Homo sapiens: one gene and its partner. The protein of the gene in region 1 purifies or fractionates together with the protein of each later gene. This does not show direct contact. Each region holds a gene or a part of one and is shown on either strand. Other genes may lie near its edges.

Region 1 (3,500 bases):
CTTCTGGCCTCAAGTAACCCACCCGCCTTGGACCCTCAAAGTGCTGGGATTACAGGTGTGAGCCACCATGCCTGGCCTAGAGTGAGCACTTAGATGTCTACTACCCAAACCTTACAATTAACTTTTTACTATACTTGTTTAATCACATATCTATGTATATATTTGCTTTTAAGTTCAAGAAATAACTAAGAGTATTAAAAAACAGAAGAGTACATTCTGTAATTCTTGATACTTGATTTGGAATCTGACTACAGCTCAAACATCACTGTGTTATAAAGGATCAAGTAAAAGACTGGAAGCTTAGCACACTGGTTCATGATTCTAGCCTTCCTCAACTTTGCCAGGCTGAGCTTATATGCATTTGAAATGTCTTCATCTGTAAAATAAAATAACGTACATCTTTAAAGGGGTTCAATATCAACATATACAACTTAGCTACTTAACAAGGAATCACACCCAACAAAAAAATCCCAGAGAGAAGTAGCGAGAATCTAGGTCTCTTACCTTGCATAATCAACGGGAGTTTTCCCACTAGAATCCTGTGTGCCTGGGTCTGCTCCATATACTGCCAATAATTCAGCCTGTAAAATCTGCCCTGCTTTGGAGGCAACATGGAGTGGGGTGTTTCCTTTTTCCTAAGAATCATTAATAAAAAGTAGGCAAAAGAGCACATTAAATAAAGGCTACATGAACACAACTCACTTAGTTTCAATATCTGAAGCAATTCATGTTTTCTTACAGGATGAAAGAAGTTGGCTTGTGCTCCTAAAGATAACAGTCTCAAACAGGTTTCAAGATTCCCTGTTCTCACGCTCGAATGGAGTTGCTGAAAAACGCAGAAACAAAAAAGGAATCGTGGTTAGAGGTGTAAAGAATGATGTCCTAGGGCAGCTGATAGACCATTTTAATATATGTTACATCAGTAACGCATAATCTTTATTTGTCTCGGTAAAGTGCATGGACCAGTCTCTCCTTTGCCAGTCACAACTGTCCCTGGGCTGTAAGGTGGAGTGAGGCCACTTTACTGATAAGGAAACTAGGGCTGTGAAGGCTGACTTGCCCAAATGCATGACTTATCTAAGAAGTGGCACAACCAGAACCTGAGTGAGAGGCAGGACTGTGTGAAGAGGTGACTATGCGTGGCTCTGACATACGACAGACCTGAATTTCAAACTATACCCACTTCAAGCTGTGTGGCCTGGAGAAAGGGCTTTAAGCAATCTGAACCTCACTTTCCTCATCTCAAAAATGTCAACAATGGCCAGATGCAGTGGCTCATGCCTGTAATCCCAGCACTTTGGGGGGCTGAGGTTGGAGGATCACTTGAGCCCAGGGGTTTGAGACCAGCCTGGGCCACATAGCAAGACTCTGGCTCTACAAAAAATACAAAAATTAGTTGGGTGTGGTGGCATGCGCACCTGTAGTCCCAGCTACTAAGGAGGCTGAGGTGGGAAGATCACCTGAGCCTGGGCAGTGGAGGCTGCAGTGAGCTGTGATCATGCCACTGCACTCCAGCCTTGGTGACAGAGCGAGACCCTGTCTCAAAAAAAATAAAAAATAAAAAAAATTTTAAAAGGTGGCATTTTTCTTTTTAGAAAGGGTCTCGCTTGCTCTGTCATCCAGGCTGGAGTGCAGTGGAGTGATCATGGCTCACTGCAGCCTCAGTATCCTGGGCTCAAGCAATCCTTCCACCTCAGCCTCCCAAACAGCTGGGACTACAGGCGCCGGCCACCATGCCCTGCTAACTTTTTATTTTTCAATACAGATGAGGTCTCACTATGTTGCCCAGGCTGATCTCGAACTTACGAGCTGAAGTGATCCTCCCACCTCGGCCTCCCAAAGTGTTGGGATTACAGGCATGAGCTACCGTGCCTGGCCCTATTCACAGGGTTATTATAAGGATTTAGTGATATAATAAAGTGCTCAAAGAATACAAATGCTATAATAACAGTTATTATTATTAGTTGTTACTGTAATTAGGGCTTTAGGACTTCAAATTCTACACTGTGTAAGCTACAGGATCCTGCCTTATACAATACCCTCTCTACCACATTATTCTTGGCCTGTATAATATGCTTTAATAAAGTCTTTCAGGGTAGGAAAAGGCCCGTGATATACCGAATTCTGTACTACTGCAGAAAAGCTCTTATACAGTCAGAAGATGAGCTGCCTTCCTTCAAATCTAACCTAGAATTGTCCAAGATGCAGTAACCCTTATCACAGGAATGAAGAAATCTACTCTAACATCTAAGTTTAATTTTTTAAATAGTTTTTTTGTTTTTTAAACACAGGGTCTCGTTATGTTGCCCAGGCAGGACTGAACTCCTTGGCTCAAGCAACCCTTCCACCTCAGCCTCCCAAGTAGCTAGTATTACAGGGATGTGCCACTGTGCCTAATTTTTTAAAACTCTGGCAAGGAAAAAAAAACAAAAAACAAAAAACCCAACACATACCAAGTCTTATTAATCAATGGAAGTAGCTAGTATATGCATTTCTATGCAAAATTTCAAATTCTGAATTCTTCAGCCAGATTCTGCTGGGGATTAAAAAAGGGGGGGGAAAAAAGGCCAGATGTGGTGGCTCACGCCTGTAATCCCAGCACTTTGGGAGGCCAAGGCAGGCAGACTGCTTAAGCCCAAGAATTTGAGACCAGTATGGACAACATGGTGAAACCCCATCTCTCCAAAAAGTCAAAAACTGGCCAGGCGCGGTGGCTCATGCCTGTAATCCCAGTACTTTGGGAGGCCGAGGCAGGCAGATCACTTGAGGTCAGGAGTTCAAGACCAGCCTGGCCAACATGGTGAAACCCTGTCTCTACTAAAAATACAAAAAAAATTAGCCGGGCATGGTGGTGGGCACCTGTAATCCAAGCTACTCAGGAGGCTGAGGCGGGTGAATCGCTTAAACCCAGGAGGTGGAAGTTGCAGTGAGCCGAGATCGTGCCACTGCACTCCAGCCTGGGTAACAGAGACTCTATCTAAAAAAAACAAAAACAAAACACACACACACACACACTAGCCAGGCTTGGTGGCACATGCCTGAGATCTCAGCCACTTGAGAGGCTGAGGTGGGAGAATCATTTGAGACTAGGGAGGTTGAGGGTGCAGTCAGCCATGATTGTGCCACGACACTCCAGCCTGGGCAACAGAGTGAGACTCTGTCGTTTAGGCTGGAGTGCCGTGGCATGATCTCAGCTCACTGCAACCTTCGTCTCCCCAGTTCAAGAGATTCACAGCTGAATTCTACCAGACATACAAAGAAGAACATCCTACTAAAATTATTCCAAACAATCAAAGAGGAGAGACTCCTCCTTAACTCATTCTGTGAAGCCAACATCAGCCTGATACCAAAATCTGGCAAAGACACAACAAAAAAGGAAAACTTCAGGCCAAAATCCATGATGAACACAGATTTTTTAAAAAACTCTTAACAAAATATTAGCAAACCAAATCCAGTAGCACATCAAAAGTTAATCCACCATGGCTGGGCGCAGTGGCTCA
Region 2 (3,500 bases), on another chromosome or scaffold:
GCCAAAAAGTAGAAAGAACCCAAATGTCCACCAACATTTATCCATGACGAACACAGTTGTAATACATCTAAATAATGGAATATTATTCAGCCATAAAAAGGAATGAAGTACTGATTCACATTACAACATGGATGAACCTTGAAAACATCATTCTAATAAAAGATGCCAGTCACAAAGGATCACATACCGATGATTACATTTATATTAAATATCCACAATAGGTAAATCCATAGAGAAAAAAAGTAGACTGGTGGCTGCCTAGGGCTGAGAGAGATTGGGGGGAAATGGGGAGTGACTGCTAATGGGTCAGGATTTCTTTATAAGGTAAGGAAATGTTCTAAAATTGATTTATTGATGATTGCACAACTCTGTGAATGTACTAAAAACCACTGAGTTACATACTTTAAATGGGGTATATGAATTATATCTCAATAAAGCTGTTCATAAAAAATTATATGAAGCTCATGGTAAGGCTTCAATAAATCACAATTCTAATTTAAAAAATAAAAGAGAGTGAGGCTCTGGAAAGACTTGGCATTAAACTACTTGAGCTTCTGAGGTCCTAAAGGAATGTCACCTATTCCACAGTAAAGACAAGTCTTCAGATTGCAGCTGATAAAAAAATTCCAAGTCCACCCGGGTGTTGGAGAACCTCTCTGGCCAAGACAAATCCAAAAAAAGAAAAAGAAAAAGAGAGAGAGGATGAAAAAAATGCAAATAGTTCCCAATTAATGTAGATAAATTTTAAAATGCATTAAAGTAATGGTAAAGACAATAAAAAGATGCTGTAGAAAAAAAAAAAAAAGAAAAAAATGCAAATATTCGAAAGAAAGATAAAACTGATATATTACTTAAAGAAACCAGAGCAGCAGGGGACACCAGCTGCCTTGGTCATGAGGTCTAAAAAAGAAGAGGAAAGATGCCCAGAGAGAGATGCCAAAATATGAACCCTGACCCATCACCAGTCTAAGACCAGTACTGGCTGAGTCAGGACTAGCAAAGGTTACTCAGGTCTTCACCCTGGGTCTATCTGTAGGCCTTCCTCTCACCCCTGGGACTCTCCACTGGTTGAGGGACCTGGATCATCAAGGAAACGAGAAAGAAACAGGAATAAACAAAAGTCAGCATAATGAGGAGGAGCAAACCTTGCCCAAACCAGAGAGTTCCCAGACTCTTCCTCCATCCCTTGGCTGGTTGCTTATAGGAGGTTAAAACAGTCTAGTCTAAGCCAGTAGAAATAGAAAATAATAGCTAACCTCTGAGTACTTACCACATGCCAGGCACTGTGCTTCATATTTTATGTGTATTATCTAATTTAATCCTCACAACTACCTTATGAGAAGGGTGCAATTATTATCCCAGTTTTACAAGTGAGAAAACTAAGAATGAAGAAATTAAGTAATTTGCCTAAGTGAGCTTGGGCAAAGCAGACATCAAAGCCTGATTAGAGCCCACCTTAGTCAGATTCCCAGAGCCATGCTCTTTTTTTTGTTTGTTTGAGACGGAGTTTCACTCTTGTTGCCCAGGCTGGAGTGCAATGGCGTGATCTCGGCTCACTGCAACCGCCACCTCCTGGGTACATATGATTCTCCTGCCTCAGTCTCCCAAGTAGCTGGGATTATAGGTGCGCACCACCACACCTGGCTAATTTTGTATTTTTAGTAGAGATGGGGTTTTGCCATGTTGGTCAGGCTGGTCTCGAACTCCTGATCTCAGGTGATCCACCTGCCTCAGCCTCCCAAAGTGCTGGGATTACAGACGTGAGCCACTGCACTCAGCCCAGAGCCATGCTCTTGACCACAATGCTATTAACAGAAACTAGTTTATTACATTACCAAAAATTGTAATACAATTACACTGGGAGGATGGGAAGGAAGCATGTCAGGGGTGGGAGTATAGATTTTCCTATAATTCCTACAACAGAAGTCAATAGATGTCTAAAACTGATAAATCAATTAAAATCACTGTAAGCATATTATTTAGAAACATGGAGGTAAACACAAAACAGCTCAAAGAGTAGAAAGTGGTTACTTCCATGGAGCAGAACTTGGAGCAGGGGACTGCTATTTTCTTTTAAAAGCCTTTTGATATTATTGATACTTTGATACTTTAAAATCATGCACATATGTGATTTTAAATGTCCGAGATCACGTCGTTGCACTCCAGCCTGGGCAACAAGAGTGAAACTCCTTTGATAAAAAGTGATTTAAGAGGCCAGGCACGGTGGCTCACGCCTGTAATCCCAGTACTTTGGAAGGCCGAAGCGGGCAGATCATTTGAGGTCAGGAGTTTGAGACCAGCCTGGCCAACATGATGAAACCCCATCTCTAGTAAAAGTACAAAAATTAGCTGGGCATGGTGGCCCATGCCTGTAATCCCAGCTACTCGGGAGGCTGAGGCAGGAGAATTGCTTGAACCAGGGAGATGGAGGTTGCAGTGAGCCAAGATTGTGCCACCGCACCCCAGCCTGGGTGACAGAGTGAGACTCCATCCTCCCCCTCCCACCGCCCAAAAAAAAGGTGATTTAAGGCCAGGTGCAGTGGTGCACACCTGTAATCCCAGCACTTTGAGAGGCCGAGGCAGGAAGATTACTTTAAACCAGGAGTTCAAGACTAGCCTGGGCAACATAGTGAGAACCCATATCTACGAAAAATGAAAAATTAGCTAAACATGTTGAGTATGCCTGTGGTCCCAGCTACTTGGGAGGCTGAGGTGAAAGGATCCCTTGAGTCCAGGAGTTCAAGGCTGCAGTGAGCTATGATCACACCACTGCACTCCAGCCTGGGCAACAGAGTGAGACCCTGTCTCAAAAAAAAAAAAAAAAGTGATTTAAAGAAGGATGGAAAGAAGGAAGAGAGGGAAGGAGGGAAATGAAATCAGAGATCATCCATGGTAAAGTCTAATGTCATAGACATCTGTTCTTTTGCCACGCAGCTTCCATTCCCCTCCACTGATAACAACACTTGGGTCTTTGGAGAATCTCCTTCCATCACTGTAATCTGGGGGGGGCCTATCAGTCAAGGAACCCTGTCCTGCTCTGGACAACTGGGGGCCAAGGGACAATGGTACTCTCTCCCTGGAATCTTGAGCATAATGGTGCAGAGACCTAAAACAGCTGGAACCAATTCACCAATAGTAGTAAGCCTCCATCGTTCCACTTACCCAGGCCCCAGAACATCCTTGGTTAGGGCTTTCTAAGCTTTCCCTTAAATTCTGTGAACTGCTCTATTTCCTTCTAATAATTTCCTCATCTGCTTAGTTTAGCTGGAGTCATTCTCTGTTGTTTATAACCAAAGGAAGTTAATGGAAATATCTAGTAAAAAGGAGTTTGGTGTTTATTTGTTCTTTTATTTGCCAATATAACTTACCACAGTGGCTTGCAAAACTTTTCAATCTCAAAAACATATTTCACATCAAGACCCAGTAAACAAACACGTACATATATAATACACACACACACACACACACACACACACACACATATATATATAACTGAAATA

Evidence for each region.
Region 2: the proteins of GIT2 (region 1) and TUFT1 purify together in Homo sapiens (affinity purification with mass spectrometry, with the first as the bait; one large-scale study listed by BioGRID). This does not show direct contact.

The regions. Positions count from the first base shown.
Region 1 is NC_000012.12:109,982,869-109,986,368, forward strand, and holds part of GIT2 (ARF GTPase-activating protein GIT2), read right to left. Parts: intron 827-3,500; coding exon 740-826; intron 636-739; coding exon 505-635; intron 1-504. UniProt on the Homo sapiens protein: GTPase-activating protein for ADP ribosylation factor family members, including ARF1.
Region 2 is NC_000001.11:151,543,309-151,546,808, reverse strand, and holds part of TUFT1 (tuftelin), read right to left. Parts: intron 1,014-3,500; exon of another isoform or gene 918-1,013; intron 1-917. UniProt on the Homo sapiens protein: Involved in the structural organization of the epidermis. Involved in the mineralization and structural organization of enamel.